Regions from separate parts of the Homo sapiens genome. Here region 2 is linked to region 1. A link means that fine-mapping ties the variant in region 1 to the expression of a gene that starts in the linked region. Tissue or cell type: tibial nerve. Region 1 holds a variant in brackets; the other region holds the start of a gene. All regions are shown on one strand. Distances are from middle to middle.

What was found. PIP is the estimated chance that this variant, and not a neighbour inherited with it, causes the effect.
Region 2: it holds the start of ANGPTL4, and the variant in region 1 is fine-mapped to the expression of ANGPTL4 in tibial nerve (GTEx, PIP 0.93).

What each region holds. Positions count from the first base shown.
Region 1 is chr19:8,393,764-8,401,942 of GRCh38, reverse strand. RAB11B (RAB11B, member RAS oncogene family) reads right to left here. Exons shown (of 5, transcript NM_004218.4): 2 at 1,885-2,080. Among named protein-coding and RNA genes, the nearest start is that of RAB11B-AS1, 7.2 kb to the right of the region's middle. RefSeq lists a silencer at 5,195-5,244. The variant G/A (reference allele first, on the strand shown) is at 3,196.
Region 2 is chr19:8,359,459-8,367,621 of GRCh38, reverse strand. ANGPTL4 (angiopoietin like 4) reads right to left here and starts at 3,467. Exons shown (of 7, transcript NM_139314.3): 1 at 2,983-3,467; 2 at 1,558-1,668; 3 at 1,303-1,420. The coding sequence starts at 3,300. RefSeq lists an enhancer at 3,801-3,850.

The DNA.
Region 1 (8,179 bases):
GTGTGTCTGGAGGCCCCAGCGCTGCTCCCTGGATCCAGCTCTGAAATGTGGGGGTCTGAGGAGGGAGTTTGGGAGCTGGAAATAGAAGATACCGTGAGGTCATCAAAAAAAGGGAAGAAGGGGCTGGGCATGGTGGCTCATGCCTGTAATCCCAGCACTTTGGGAGGCTGAGGCGGGTGGATCACTTGAGGCTGGGAGTTTCAGACCAGCCTGGGCAACATGGCGATACCCCATCTCTACTAGAAAAACACAAAAATTGGCCGGGGGTCGTGGCTCATGCCTGTAATCCCAGCACTTTGGGAAGCCGAGGCAGGTGGATCACGAGGTCAGGAATTCAAGATCAGCCTGGCCAAGATGGTGAAACCCCATCTCTACTAAAAATACAAAAATTAGCCAGGCGTGGTGGCAGGCGCCTGTAATCCCAGCTACTCGGGAGGCTAAGGCAGGAGAATTGCTTGAACCCTGGGGGGCGGGGGGCGGAGGTTGCAGTGAGCCGAGATTGTGACACTGCACTTCAGTCTGGATGACAGAGTGAGACTCTATCTCAAAAAAATAAATAAATAGGCCAGGCAGGGTCGCTCACGCCTGTAATCCCAGCACTTTGGGAGGCCGAGGCGGGCAGATCATGAGGTCAGGAGATCGAGACCATCCTGGCTAATGCGGTGAAACCCCATCTCTACTAAAAATACAAAAAATTAGCCAGGCGTGGTGGTGGGCGCCTGTAGTCCCAGCTGCTCAGGAGGCTGAGGCAGGAGAATGGCGTGAACCTGGGAGGCAGAGCTTGCAGTGAGCTGAGACTGCGCCACTGCACTCCAGCCTGGGCGACAGAGTGAGACTCTGTCTCAAAAACTAAAACTAAAAAATAAATAAATTAATTAATTAAATTAGCCAGGCATGGTGGCACAGGCCTGTAGCCCCAGCTACTCAGGAGGCTGAGGCAGGAGAATCGCTTGAGCCTGGGAGGTCAAGGGGGCAGTGAGCTGCAATTGTGGCACTGCACTCCAGCCTGGGCGACAGAGCAAGACCCTGTCTGTCTCCAAAAAAGAGGAGGCGACAGCCAGGCACGGTGGCTCACGCCACCTGTAATCTCAGCACTTTGGGAAGCCGAGAGGGTGGATCACCTGAGGGCGGGAGTTTGAGACCAGCCTGACCAATGTGGAGAAACCCCATCTCTACTAAAAATACAAAATTAGCCTGGTATGGCGGCATGTGCCTATAATCCCAGCTACTTGGGAGGCTGAGGCAGGAGAATCGCTTGAACCCAGGAGGCGGAGGTTGCAGTGAGCCGAGATCGTGCCATCGCACTCCAGCCTGGGCGACAAGAGTGAAACTCCATCTCAAAAAAAAAAAAACAAGAGGAGGTGACAGAGAGACAGATGTACCTGAGGGATGAAGGAGATGGGAGGGAGCCCAGAGGATCTCAAGACGGTGGTGGGAATGGCTGGGGGGCTTGGGAGGGGTCCAGAAAAAGGCAGCTGAGTGGGTCCTGATGGCTGGGAAGCCTTTGCAGGGAATGGAGGCCAGGCCCAGGTGGGAGGACAGGAGGCGTGTGGGACCAGGTGTGGGCACCAGTGAGGAGGGAAGCTGAGGGAGGAGGAAGGCTGGGATGCTGGCTGGGCAGGGGCAGCGGCAAGGCGGAGTGGCCTGAGCTAGGTCCTCACTGCACTTGGTACCCAGAGATACCCTGGTGTGGCGAAGGCTGGGCGCTGGTCAGCCTGAGGGTCCCACGGCGCATGGCTAAAGCGTTCTTCCAGCCTCACTCCCTGGTCTTGGGAGCACACTCTCCCCTTCTCCTGCCCAACTCCTACACATCCTTCCAAGCCCACGCGCTGCAAGCCCACGCCCCCGAATCTCAGCGTCCCTGCCCAGGCTGCCGACACGCACGCGGAGGTGATGGCGCGGTAGCGCTCCTGGCCAGCGGTGTCCCAGATCTGCGCCTTGATGGTCTTGCCGTCCACCTGGATGCTGCGGGTGGCGAACTCCACGCCGATGGTGCTCTTGCTCTCCAGGTTGAACTCGTTGCGGGTGAAGCGCGACAGCAGGTTGCTCTTGCCCACGCCTGAGTCCCCGATGAGCACCACTGGGCGGGAAGGCGAGGTTCTGTGAATCCCCACACTCCACCCACGACTGCCCCCACAACCTTCCCGCCGGTTCCCTGGGTGCTGCACCAACGCGGCTGCCAACGGTGTGGAGGAGTCGAGAGATGCCTGGAGCCCAGGGCCTGCAGGCACTGTGCTAAGTGGTGCAGAAGTGAAGGCAGGCTCCTGCCTTCCAGAAACAGCCACTGCGGATAGCACAACACCTGCCTGTGTCTGGTCCTCAGAGCAGGGCTGTCCCAGCTGGGGCAAGGGGACCCAGGCAGCCAGGCAGGCAGAGCAGCTTGAGATCCATCAACCCTGAGCCTCCACCTGCAGCCTGGTGGCTGGGCAGCCAGACACGGCTTGAGAAGGCTCCTGAGCGGGGTGACCTTGGGCAAGTCACTTCACCTCTGGACTACTTTTTCCAAATGTGTGAACAGGAAGGCAGTCACAGGAGGAGGAAGTAAGAGCAGGCATGGCCAGGCACGGTGGCTCCCGCCTGTAATCTCAATGCTTTGAGAGGATGAGCCAGGCGGATCACTTGAGGTCGGGAGTTCGAGACCAGCCTGGCCAACATGGTGAAATCCCGTCTCTATAAAAAATACAAAAAGTACCCGGGCGCGGTGGCTCACACCTGTAATCCCAGCACTTTGGGAGGCCGAGGCGGGTGGATCACGAGGTCAGGAGATCGAGACCATCCTGGCTAACGTGGTGAAACCCCATCTCCACTAAAAATACAATAAAATTAGCTGGGTGTGGTAGCGGGCGCCTGTAGCCCCAGCTACTTGGGAGGCTGAGGCAGGAGAATGGCGTGAATCCGGGAGGCGGAGCTTGCAGTGAGCCGAGATCACGCCACCGTACTCCAGCCTGGGTGACAGAGCGAGACTCCATCTCAAAAAAAAAAATAATAATAATAATAATTAGCTGGGCGTGGTGGCTACTGTAGCCCCAGCTACTCAGGAGGCTGAGGCAGGAGAATCGCTTGAGCCCAGGAGGTGGAGGCTGCAGTGAGCCGAGATCGAATCACTGCACTCCAGCCTAGGCAACAGAGATTCTGTCTCCCCCCACGAAAAGAGCAGGCATCGCACAGGAAGGGACACGAGTAGGCAGCTGTCAC[G/A]GTTGTTGTGGTTTCTGGTCAGGGCATGGGAAGGGTCACTGCTCCAGGTATGTAAGTGACAGGACATGAGGAGCTACTCCCACCTCAACCCCCACCTCTCCTGGTGCAGCAAACCCACATCCAGCTTCGGCACAGATGGCTGAGTGGGAAACAGGAATGTGCCCTGAGGACGCAGCCCGGAGGAAAGAGCCTGCAGCCACCTCCCACCACCCCTGTCCCCAGGGTCAGGTCCCCTGCTGAGCTGCAGGGAGCTCCAGCCAAGGCTAAGTCCTCATTCAAGGGGCAGTCCGTGTGGCAGTCCACGTGTGTGCACAGCTCCTCACAAGGCTCCAACACAGGTATGCATTGTCCCAGGAGGGGGGTGCACAGCAGAGCAGCTTGCCAAGATGCAAACCCTGGCCCAGAAAGGAGTCAGCGCAGCGTGGACAGAACAGAGATGAGGGTTTGTGGGCAACAGCACCCAGGGACGGGGGCCTGAGCCCAGTCGACACGGGGTGTGCAGCAGGCCTGTCTCATGCTGGCCAAGGAGCATCAGGAACACTTTCCCTGAGCAGAGCAGGTGCCTGCTGGTCAGGCCAGGGGTGAGCTGCCTTGTAAACTGTTTCCTGTCCCAGCCATGGAAGCACTGTCCCTATGGGCCCAGCCGCCCCAGGCTCTGGGGTGGGGTCTGGGTGAGCTGTCCCCAGACCCAGAACATACCATGTGGGGAAGATCAGTGTGTGTGTGTGCACTTGAATACAGCCAACCAGACGCCCCAGCCAGAAGCCCCGTGGACCCCCAAGTGTGGGCCTTGGGCCCCGGCACCTGAGGGTGGGTTGGCTCAGTGGCTTGGTCATCCCTGGTCCCAGGGAGTTAGGGGGCATCCACTGAGGATGAGGCTTCCTTGTCTGGGAAGAGATGGGTATGGCTGTTCCTCCTGAGCTCGGGGAGGTGCTGGCAGCCAGGCTGAGCCCTGGCTGACCCAGAGGTCCGCTGGCCCCACTCGGGACCCCTGCTACATTGAGGGAGCAGGCCCTGGAGCCCACCAGGCAGCCCTCCTCTGCCCTTCCCCTGGCCACACTGTGGGGCTGTACCTACACGTTTGGAATTTTCCCTCTAGAAAACATTCTCTCCTGACCCAACTTCCTGCCTCGGGCACTGGAAGGTATCATCTACACTCACTCACTCCACCTCCTGTCCCCCAGTCCTAGAACTCAAACCAAGCACGCTTTCGCCCCCACAGTCAGTGTCAGCCTCAGCTACCCCCACTCCCCCGGGCCTGTGCAGCAGGCACCCAGCCAGCTCTCCCTCCTTCCCTGCCTGCAGGGGCTCCACACCCCGACTCCTCTCCTCACAGTCACTCCCACTCAGTCTCCCACTCTACCTTCGAACCTCAGGGAGCCTCAGGACAGGCATCTCTGTCCACACCCAGTCCCCAGGTGACCCCATCCAGGCTCATGGCTGTAAATACCAGCCATGGGCTGGTAACTCCTATATTACCTCTCTCCCTAGAAGCCCAGACTGGCGTGCCCATTGTCTCCTTCATGTCTCCTCAGGGGCCCCAGGCCCCTCATACCCAGAAGAGCAGAGCCAAGCTCCCGATCACTCCCTAAGCCTGCTCACCCACCGCTCACCTACCCTCCTTATCTTGGTTAACTTTGGCTTGGTCCTACCAGGCACTCATGCCAGAAACCTGGAGTCATTCTCGACTCCTTCCTTTCTCTCGCATCTCAGAATCAATCCTTCAGCACATCCGAAACAGATCCAAGAGAAGGGAGGACGAGGGGTGCACCCCACCATGTCTCCCTGGGCGATTCCATTCCAGACTCTCAGACCCTGGAAGGTATTGTCTGTGCGGTCCCTGTGTTCACGCTCATCACCAACCAAAACGCTGTCCTCCTGCAGCAGCCACCAGAGAGCGCCCGTGAGTGCCGAGCCAGGGCACCTCCCTCCCTCCTCTGCAGACAACCCTCCGTGGCCCCCACCTTCCGCAGGGGAAAAGCCACAGTCCTCCCCGCTGCCCACAGGGCCCTCCCCTCCTCCCTCCCGCCCCCCCCCCGGCTCACTCTGCTCCAGCCACACAGGCCTCCATGCTGTTCCCCCAACACGCCAGGTGCGATCCTGCCTCAGGGCCTTTGCACGGGTTGCTCCTGCTGCCAGAAACGCTCTTCTCCAGGCACACACCTGGCTCCCTCCCTCATCCCCTTCGTGTGGCCCCTTAAATGCCACTTGGCCAAGAAGGCCCTCCCTGCTATGCTACTAAAACTCTACTCTCCGAATTACCCTGCTCCCGGACCCAGTTCTTCCTCCGTCACTCTTGCCACTCTCTCACCTGTCAGGTGGCATTTATCTTTTGCCAGTCTGCCCCAAGGGCAGGAATCAGGTCCTGGCACAGTGCTTGGCACACAATAAACACCCAAGAAAATGTCTGTCAAGTGAACAAACAAAATGCCAAAAAGGCTGGCAGAGCCTCCCACGCATGCCGCCTGCCCCATACCTAGAGGATGCCAGGTCACCACCCTTGGGCCACAGGTGAGGAGGGCAGGATCAGGCAGCCCCTACAACCCCACCTGGTACCCGCTCTGGTTGGCTGCTTGGAAGCCAAGAATAACAAGAACAAGGAGAATATTCGATGAGCTTGTGCTAACAAAGCTCTTGATGTGCGTTACTTCGCAGAAGCCTCCTGTAGCCCATTTTTACAGATGAGGAAACTGAGGCTTGGATGGGGAACGGGGTGCGGGGCAGAGCAGGACCCTGAAGCTATGCATGTTTGTGGGCTCGCCCTCACCTCCCAACGGTGCTCCCCAAGTGACTTGTCTGGAGCCACCGCCTGGGAAGTGAGCCAGGCAGGATTTGAACCCAGGTCTTCTGCATCCACAGTCCAAGTTCTTCCTTCGCAACTCACTGCCACACTCACTGTCCTACCCCAAACCCCAGCACGTGGCTCGGGAGTCGTGGTTCTGCCTTATGGGGTGGGCATTGAGGCTCTGGGCACCCCAGCTCCCACCGCATAGGGCAGCCTGTCCCCCTGGGGCGGCCAGCAAACTCCTACTCATCCTTCAAGACCCCTCGGCTCAGACCTCTCCTCTCCCCAAAGACCACTGCTTGGCCTGGCGTGAAAGACCTAAGACAACGGGGCTGGCATTCTCTCACGTCACCATGGGTGCCCCGCACAGGGCTACCAAGTGGACTTCAGAGAAAGACAGAAAGATGGCCGGGTACAGTGGCTCATGCCTGTAATCCTGTAATCCCAGCACTTGGGGAGGCCGAGGCAGGCGGATCATTTGAGGTCAGGAGTTTGAGACCAACCTGACTAACATGGTGAAACCCCGTCTCTATGAAAAATACAAAAATTAGCCGGGTGTGGTGGTGGAGGCTGAGGCAAGAGAATCATTTGAACCTGGGAGGCGGAGGTTGCAGTGAGCCGGGATCGTGCCACTGCACTCCAAGCTGGGCGACACAGCGAGACTCCATCTCAAAAAAAAAAAAAAAAAAAAGAAAGATGGAAAGAGGTGGAGTGAATGTAGGCGTGTGGCCCAGCACCTCCCAACCAAGCCAGTAGGGATGAGAATCGGCTCCCAGGCCACTGGGGGCCAAGATGGACTCACTGTGAGGGCCCCCATCTACACCACCAACCTTAACCTCCTTTCCACGGCAGCTACGGGAGCCTGGCCAAGGCCAGGGAGGTCTGCTCAGTTCTCACGTCCTCAGGAAATAAGACAGGAAACTCGGGCCCTGCCCAGGCATTCCCGACACCTTCACACCATTCCAGCCTTGCCCCAGCTGTACAGCCTTAGTGGCTCCTCAGCCCCATCAGTTTGTTTGTTTTTGTTTGTTTGTATTGAGATGGAATCTCCCTCGCCCAGGCTGGAGTGCACTGACACAATCTCAGCTCACTGTACTCTCCGCCTCCTGAGTTCAAGAGATCCTCCTGCCTCAGCCTCCCGAGTAGCCGGGATTATAGGCGTGCACCACGACGCCCAGATAATTTTTGTATTTTTAGTAGAGGTGGGGTTTTGCCATGTTGGCCAGGCTGTCTCAAACTCCTGACTTCAAGTGATTCACCCACCTCGGCCTTCCAAAGTACTAGGATTCCAGGCGTGAGCCATGGCACCCAGCCCCATCAGTTTTGCCCTCAAGCACTTTGGCCAGGCTGGGTCCCCAGTGCTTTGCAGGCCTCAGCTGTCCACATTCTCAGGGCTGCCCCAGGGACAGATGTAAATATTATCATTCTCCCTGAACAGCTGGGGACACTCAACCCAGAGTGACCAAGTCAGAGCAAAGGCCAAATGGCCACTGAACAGATCAATGACAGGCCAGGTGCAGTGGCTCACGCCTGTAATCCCAGCACTTTGGGAGGCCAAGGCGGGTGGATCACTTGAGCTCAGGAGTTCGAGACCAGCCTGTCAACATGGCGAAACCCCGTCTCTACTAAAAATACAAAAAATAGGTGGGCATGGTGGTAGGCACCTGTAATCCCAGCTACTCAGGAGGCTGAGGCAGGAGAATCATTTGAACCCAGGAGGCGGAGGTTGCAGTGAGCTGACACTAAGCCACTGCACTCCAGTCTGGGTGACAAAACAGGTGAATGGCAAAGAGGCTGAGCTGCCCAACCAGTCCCTGGCACTGGGTGCCCGATGCAGAGAGGTGGCCAGCGGGGCAGTGGCGGGCTGGTCCAGGATGCAGGCTGGGGATGAAAACTTCATTGTCTAGGACACAAGCAATCTGTTGTCTTGGGGAAATAAAGAGCCCTTGAGGACACAGCTCCGAGCATTTCCACAGAAGTTGGTGGCTTCACTGGCTGGGAAGCGACCCCCCTACCCCAGACACGCCACTTGGCTGACAGAGCAGGCAAGCCCGGTTGGCAAAAACAAAGAACTGGCACCTCTGAGAAGTCCTAGGTGCCCTGGCCTGCCCCATGACAGTGTGGTGGCCCTGGGGGCCCAGACCCTAATGCTCAGGCAGACTGAGAGACTCTTCAGGGGAATGGTGCCCCCATTCCGGC
Region 2 (8,163 bases), 34 kb after region 1:
CGCCCCCAGCCCAGCCGGAAAAGTAGGGGAAAGGTCGAAATGAGTCTGCACGGTGGGGGTGGGGGCGGGCCCAGAGTGACCAGGAAGACGCTTTCCGGCCCCTCAGGCATCTCCCCTTTCCCCTACTTTCCTCCCATCCAGTAAGGATGGGCACGCGGCCAAACCACCAGTGTGGCTTCCATGAATGCCAGCTGTTCGCCTTCCCAGCTCTGAACTTTCTCCTACTTGGCGGGCCTGAGCCAAGAGTCTGGGAGTCCCGAACCCACAGAACCCCTGCCCCCTTCCACCGCATTTCCCAGCCAGGACTTGTGCCTTCCCCCGTCACCCTCCAGAAGCCCCTCATCCTGGGATGGTGGCTTTGGGAGGGTGGACAGGACCCTGACCACGCTGAGATGCTAGCCTGGCGGGGTTGGGGGCGGGCAGCACGGAGGTGGGAAGGAGCGGGAGCTTGGGGAGGAGAGAACCCTCAGGTCTACAGTGCTGGAAGCCTGCCACTGACCCTAGGGTGTGAGAGGGGGATCCAAACTTTCACCCAGTTGGCTGTGGACAGCCACAGATGCAGGGAAGGATGAGGACCACAGAGAAACCGTGTGGGGCCGTGAACTTAGAGAACCGCGAGTCTGCATCGGACACACGTGGACATGCTGTGGTTCGAGATGAACGGAGATTTGGGAATAAAGCACCTACAACTTGTGGTGGCAGCAAAAGCCCACTTTCTGCGGTGGGGAGGGGGCCGGCGGGGGCGGGGAGGGAGGAGGAGAACAAGAGAGGAAGGAGGAAGAGGGGTCAGGGACCTGGAGCATTGGATTTGTAAGATACAAGAGTGTTTCTGGTCTGGGAGCTGGGGGTTCCCAGCCCTAATTCCCACATACCCCAAGACATTGTGGAGGGCCCAAATCTACAAACACTACTACCTGGCACCCCCTCCTCCATGACACCCTCCCCTAGAAGGTTCTAACCTTCAGGATGGCACCCCGAACCCCATTTCTACCTTCTCCAGCACCCCTGCAGCTCAAGTCCCTCAAGACCTCTTTCTCCACCTCTGTTCCAATCAGTGATCAGCAGGGCTTCAGGGACAGCCCACTGGCTTGCAGAGGAGAAGGGTTGGGTGGCCTGGCTGGGCCAGGTCAGGGCTGAGGAAGGAGGTGCTCCCATCAGCTTTGACCCAGAGACTGGTGAGCCCTCAGGGACTCCAGGCCAGGACATCTTCTCCTTAAGGTGGACCTGACAAGGAGAGGACCAGCAATGGCAAGTGGCGGGGTAGGGGTGGCCACCGGAGAGCATCGAGGGGCAGACACTCACGGTGCAGGCGGCTGACATTGTGAGCCGGGTCAACTGGCTGGGCCATCTCGGGCAGCCTCTTTCTTCGGGCAGGCTTGGCCACCTCATGGTCTAGGTGCTTGTGGTCCAGGAGGCCAAACTAGGATGGGACGGGAGGAGGGTGTCAGGTCCTGCCTGGCCCCACGTCCCCAGCCACACGTCCAGTTCTCACCACCTCCCTCTCAACCTGGGGTCCAGCTATCAGAGGGACCTTTTCTCCCTTGATCCTAGGGTTACCTGGCTTTGCAGATGCTGAATTCGCAGGTGCTGCTTCTCCAGGTGCCGCTGCTGCTGGGCCACCTTGTGGAAGAGTTGCTGGATCCTGCTGTTCTGAGCCTTGAGTTGTGTCTGGGGAGGGGTGAAAACCTTGGTGAGGACCCAGCTTGCCTACCCCAACCTCTTAATTCATCCACTCATCCATCCTTCCAAATCTCCATCCGCTGAGGCCAGGCAAGGGAGTCTTTCTTTTTTCTTTTTTTTCCCAATGACGGGGTCTCGTTCTCTCGCCCAGGCTGGAGTGCAGTGGTGCTGTCACAGCTCACTGCAGCCTCCAACTCCTGGGGTCAGGCGATCCTCCTGTTTTCAGCCTCCTGTGTAGCTGGGACTACAGTCATGCAGCTCTATGCCTGGCTTATTTTTTATTTTTTCAGACAGAGTCTCGCTCTGTCACCCAGGTTGGAGTGCAGTGGCGCAATCTTGGCTCACTGCAACCTCTGCCTCCCAGACTCAAGTGATTCTTGTGTCTCAGCCTCCCAAGTAGCTGCCACCACACCTGGCTAATTTTTGTATTTGTATTTTATTTTATTTATTATTATTATTATTTTGAGATGGAGTCGAGCTCTGTCGCCCAGGCTGGAGTGCAATGGCATGATCCCGGCTCACTGCAACCTCCGCCTCCCGGGTTCAAGAGGTTCTCCTGCCTCAGCCTCCCCAGTAGCTGGGATTACAGGCGCCCACCACCACACCCAGCTAATTTTTGTATTTTTAGTAGAGACGGGGTTTCACTGTGTTGGTCAGGCTGGTCTTGAACTCCTGACCTCAGGTGATCCACTGGCCTCGCCCTCCCAAAGTGCTGGGACTACAAGCGTGAGTCACCGCACCTGGCTTTATTTTTATTTTATCGCTATTATTTTTTTGAGGAGTCTCACTCTGTTGCCCAGGCTGGAGTGCAGTGCTGCGATCTCGGCTCACTGCAACCTCTGCCTCCCGGGTTCAAGAGATTCTCCTGCCTCAGCCTCCCAAGTAGCTGGGATTACAGGCATGCACACCATGCCAGGCTAATTTTTTGTATTTTTAGTAGAGACGAGGTTTCTCCATGTTGGCCAGGCTAGTCTCGACAGCAGGTGGAGGCTCCGTGAGCCACTGCGCCCGGTCGTTTTTTAATTTTATATTTATTTTATTTTATTTTATTTATTTTGTGTGTGTGTGTGTGTGTGTGTAGAAGAGACGGGGGTCTCGCTATTTTGCTTTAGGTGGTCTTGAATTCCTGGCCTTGAGCGAACCTCCCTCCTCGGCTTCCTAAGGGGGGAGCCCATCCCTTGACGCAGGGAAGCCCAGGGAGCCACAGTTGCGCACCCCGCCCCCACGCCCCACTCCTGTCCATACCCTTCCAAGCCAGGAGAGCCACTAGGGGCGCGGAGAACCAGCCCTGGGGACACGTACCTGCAGGCTGTGAAGGACCTCAGGGTCCACCCGGCTCTCAGGGGCTAACGGGAGGTCGGTGGACCCCTCGGTTCCCTGACAGGCGGACCCGCACGCGCTCAGGCGCCGCTCCAGCGCGCTCAGCTGACTGCGGGTGCGCTCCGCGTGTTCGCGCAGCCCCTGGCCGAGCTGCAGGAGTCCGTGCGCCAGGACATTCATCTCGTCCCAGGACGCAAAGCGCGGCGACTTGGACTGCACGGGTCCGCCCTGAGCGCTCAGTAGCACGGCGGTGGCGGCGCAGAGCATCAGGGCTGCCCCGGCCGTCGGAGCACCGCTCATCCTCTTAGGTAGCCTGGGAGCGGGGATTCGGGGACTCTCGGGGACGTTGGGGTTCCAGGTGCGAGGACTGGAGACGCGGAGGACCGGGGGTAAGACCCGCTTGGTTGCAGAAGCCGCTGGAAAGAATCGGATCACAGTCGTGTGAGGATCCGCTCAGCTCGGCTTCTCCCCGCCGCGCCCGAGGACGGTTTTTATAAGTTGGGTGCGGAGTGGGCGGAGGAGTCTTGGAGGCGGGGTGCGGGGAGTGCTGGGGGCAGGGCCTGTGGCCGGGGGTGGGGTCCTGTCCTCTGGAGGCCTGGTAGTCTGCGGGCTGGGGGATGCCCTGGGGATGCCAAACTGTGGCTCTCCCGCCCCCGCTCCAGGCTCAGGCAGGCCTTCCTCTACGAACCGTGGGAGACGTGACTCTTCTTTCCCCCACGGTGCCCGCCTCTAGTGTGAAATTGCAAGCCCCCTATTCCGCCCCCGCCTTACCCAGTGGCGGAGAGGGCGCACGCTTGAGGTCAAGACTTCCAGACCAGCCCGGCCAACATCGTGAAACCCAGTCTCTACTAAAAATACAAAAAAAAATTAGCCGGGCTTGGTAGTGCGCGCCTGTAGTCCCAGCTACTCGGGAGGCTGAGGCAGTAGAATCGCTTGAACCCGGGAGGTGGAGGTTGCAGTGCGCCGAGATGGCGCCATTGCGCTCCAGCCTGGGCGACAGAGCCAGAGTACGTCTCAAAATGAAAGAAGAGAAAAGAAAAGAAAAGAAAGAAAAGAGAGAGAAAGAAGGAAAGAAGGAAGGAAGGACGGAAAAAGAAAAGAGAGAGAGGTAGGGAGGGAGGGAAGAAGGAGAGAGAGAGAGAAAAGAGAGAGAGAAAGGAAAGAGAGAAAGAGGAAGGAAGGAAGGAGGGAAAGAAAGGAAGAAGGAAAGAAAGGAAGGAAAAGAAAAAGAGCTGAGTTCAGCGGAGCCCGGAACTCACCAAAAGTCCTTGCCTTGCGGAGGCTTCGTGTGACCTCCATCCCAAGACCAGGAGAGACTTTTCTGGGCTCGCATGTTCCTTCCCGTGAAAGGGTTCGTCATCGCAGCTGTGTTTATGAGATTCTTTGACTTCCATTTCTCCCCTGAGCCCGAAATTATGAGTGCCTTAGCGGCAGGACTTGGATCAGGGCCTCACCCCCATAGCCTACCCTCTACCGCCAGGGTCTTTAATGTCCTGAGCTTTGCCTATAATAAAGCAGGAACTTAGAGAACAGAAAGAGGAGACACAAGGAAGGGAGGAACCAGGGCGGTCGCCCATGACTGTGGTCGCAGCTACTTGGGAGCCTGAGGTGGGAGGCTCACTTGAGCCCAGGAGGTAGAGGCTGCAGTGAGCCACAATGGTGCCACTGCACTCCAGCCTGGGCAACAGAGTGAGATCCTGTCTCTAAAAAAGAAATAAAATAAAAGTCTGTGGCCAGGCGCGGTGGCTCACGCCTGTAATCCCAGCACTTTGGGAGGCCGGGTGGTGGGAGGGGGGGGGGGGCGGATCACCTGAGGTCAGGGGTTCGAGATCAGCCTGGCCAACATGGTGAAACCTCGTCTCTACTAAAAATAAAAAATTAGCCGGGTGTGGTGGCACGTGCTTACAGCTACTCGGGAGACTGTGTCAGGAGAATCGCTTGAACTCAGGAGACGGAGGTTGCAGTGAGCTGAGATTGCACCACAGCACTCCAGCCTGGGTGACAGAGTGAGACTGTGTGTCAAAAAAAAAAAAAAAAGTTTCAGACATGGAAGACCTTCCTCTTTCTCTCCCTCATTCATTCATTCACTCATGCACTGAACGAAGGTGCTGCTGCCCTCTAAGCCCAGCCCCTGTATGTTTGAAGTTCTCAGGCAGGTGGAGATACCCCAACATTCTGAGCCTGGGGTAGGGATAGAGTTGGGACAAAGGAAGTACTGAGTGAGGCTAAAGGGCTGGACCACATTCATTCCACAGGGCTAAGTGTTCATTCAAACTTGCACCGATCTCCTCTGCCTCTTCCCTACCCATTCCCCTATACCCTGTCAGGAAGGGGAGGCTGGCACAGAAAACCAGCCTGCCAGGAAGAACTCGGGGCAGGTTGGCTCAGAGCACTGGCAAGGAGAAGGGCATTGACTCAGCAGGGCTCCAAGCCAGCTCATTCTCTGGAATCTGAAACTGCACACCCAAGGGCTGACGTGCAGGCTGCCACTCATACACTTGGCCCCGTCAGCTGGGCCAGATGCCAGGACAGCAAATCCCTCCCAGCAGCAGTGGACAGGAAAGGGAGGGAGGAAAACCCCAGTGAGGAGTAGGTTCAGATGGTCACCGTCTGGCCTGTCCACCCCCAAGCCCCCAGCCTCTCTCTGAGTAGGGACACAGCTATCCCAGGCTATCCCAGAATGCAAGCTCCTCCTCTTCCCCACCTTCTTAAACTGAGAGAACTGATCAATTACTTCCCCAACCTGATGACCTTTTCATGATCTGATTTTCAGGGACTTCTTTGGAGCCATGTGTCCCACAGCACAAAACACATCACAGACCCAGGGTCTTAAGGGCACCTGCTGTGAGCAATCTACAAAAGAGTCTATACTGTCGCCTCAAGTTGGCTCTAGATTTTATTCTAAAAACTGCTCTTTATTTTTTATTTATTTATTTATTTATTTATTTATTTATTTATTTTTTGAGAAGGAGTCTCGCTCTGTCGCCCACGCTGGAGTGCAGTGGCGCAATCTCGGCTCACTGCAAGCTCCACCTCCCGGGTTAGTGCCATTCTCCTGCCTCAGCCTCCCGAGTAGCTGGGACTACAGGCACCTGCCACCATGCCCAGCTAATTTTTTGTATTTTTAATAGAGACAGGGTTTCACCATGTTAGCCAGGATGGTCTCGATCTCCTGACCTCGTGATCCGCCCGCTTCGGCCTCCCAAAGTGCTGGGATTACAGGCATGAGCCACCGCGCCCAGCCTATTTTTTATTTTATTTATTTATTTTTTTGAGATGGAGTTTCCCTCTTGTCGCCCAGGCTGGAGTGCAACGGCGCAATCTCCGCTCACTGCAACCTCTGCCTCCCAGGTTCAAGCGATTCTCCAGCCTCAGCCTCCCGAGTAGCGGGGATTACAGGTGTGCACCACCACACCTGACTAATTTTTTGTATTTTTAGTGCAAACGGGGTTTCACTATGTTGGCTCTGCTGGTCTCAAATTCCTGACCTCAGGTGATCCACCTGTCTCGGCCTCCCAACGTGCTGGGATTACAGGTGTGAGCCACTGTGCCTGGCCTAGCCTTTTTTTTTTTTTTTTTTTTGAGACAGAGTCTTGCTCTGTTGCCCAGGCTGGAGTGCAGTGGCCTCATCTCGGCTCACTGCAAGCTCCACCTCCCAGGTTCCCGCCATTCTCCTGCCTCAGCCTCCTGAGTAGCTGGGACTACAGGTGCCCACCACCACGCCCGCTAATTTTTTGTATTCTAGTAGAGGGGGTGGGGTTTCGCCATGTTGCCCAGGCTGGTCTCAAACTCCTAAGCTTAGGCTATCCACCACCTCAGCCTCCCAAAGTGCTAGGATTACAGGCATGAGCCACCACGCCCAGCCCTGTTTTATGTATTTTTTTTTTTTTTTCTGAGATGGGTCTCACTCACCCAGGCTGGAGTGCAGTGTCACAATCACAGCTCACCGCAACCTCAAACTCCCAGGCTCAAGTGATCCTCCCACCTCAGCCTCCCAAGCAGCTGGGACTATAGGCATGTGCCACCAGACCTGCCTAATTTCTGTAGATTTTGTAGAGACAGGATTTTTGCCGTGTTGCCCAGGCTGGTCTTGAACTCCTGAGCTCAAGGGATTCACTCGCCTCGGCCTCCCAAAGTGCTGGGATGACAGGTGTGAGTCACTGTGCCTGGCCAAAAACTGACCTTTAGAATGTGGCCTCTTACCCAGCAAAGACAAAGTCATCCTGATCAATTGTTCCTGGAGCACCTACTATATGCCAGGCACTGTACTGGGGCGATCACGGTGGGCAAGACCGGGTCTCCAATCCCAACGCGTGGGCTACTTTGGCCAACATAGTTAAAAATTGTTAAAATGACCAATTTTATATTATGTATATTTCTTTTTTTCTTTTTCTTTTTTTTCTTTTCTTTTCTTTTTTTTTTCTTTTTTTTGAGACAGAGTCTTGCTCTGTCGCCAAGGCTGGAGTGCAGTGGTGCAATCTCTGCTCACTGCAACTTCCACCTCCTGGGTTCAAATGATTCTCCTGCCTCAGCCTCCCGAGTAGCTGGGATTACAGGTGCCCACCACCACGCCTGGCTAATTTTTGTATTTTAGTAGAGACGGGGTTTCGCCATGTCCAGGCTGGTCTCTAACTCCTGACCTCAGGTGATCCGCCTACCTCGGCCTCCCAAAGTGCTGGGATTACAGGTATGAGCCACTGCGCCCAGCCTGTTATGTGTATTTCACTACAAATGTAAATGCCATTAAGCTAGGCAAGGTGGCTCATGCTTGTAATCCCAGTACTTTGGGAGGCCAAGGTGGGAGGACTGCTTGAGCCCAGGAGTTCAAGATTGGGTAACATGGCAAGACCCTGTCTGTACAAAAAATTTAAAAAATTAGCTGGGGCCAGGCTGGGCACGGTGGCTCATGCCTGTAATACCAGCACTTTGGGAGTCCAAGGTGGGCAGATCGTGAGGTCAGAAGTTCGAGACCAGCCTGACCAACATGGTGAAACCCGGTCTCTACTAAAAATGTAAAAATTAGCCAGGCGTGGAGGCGCGCGCCTGTAATCCCAGTTACTCGGGAGGCTGGGGCAGGAGAATCGCTGGAACCCGGGAGGCAGAGGGTGCAGTAAGCAGAGATTGCGCCACTGCACTCCAGCCTGGGCAACAGGGCGAGACTCT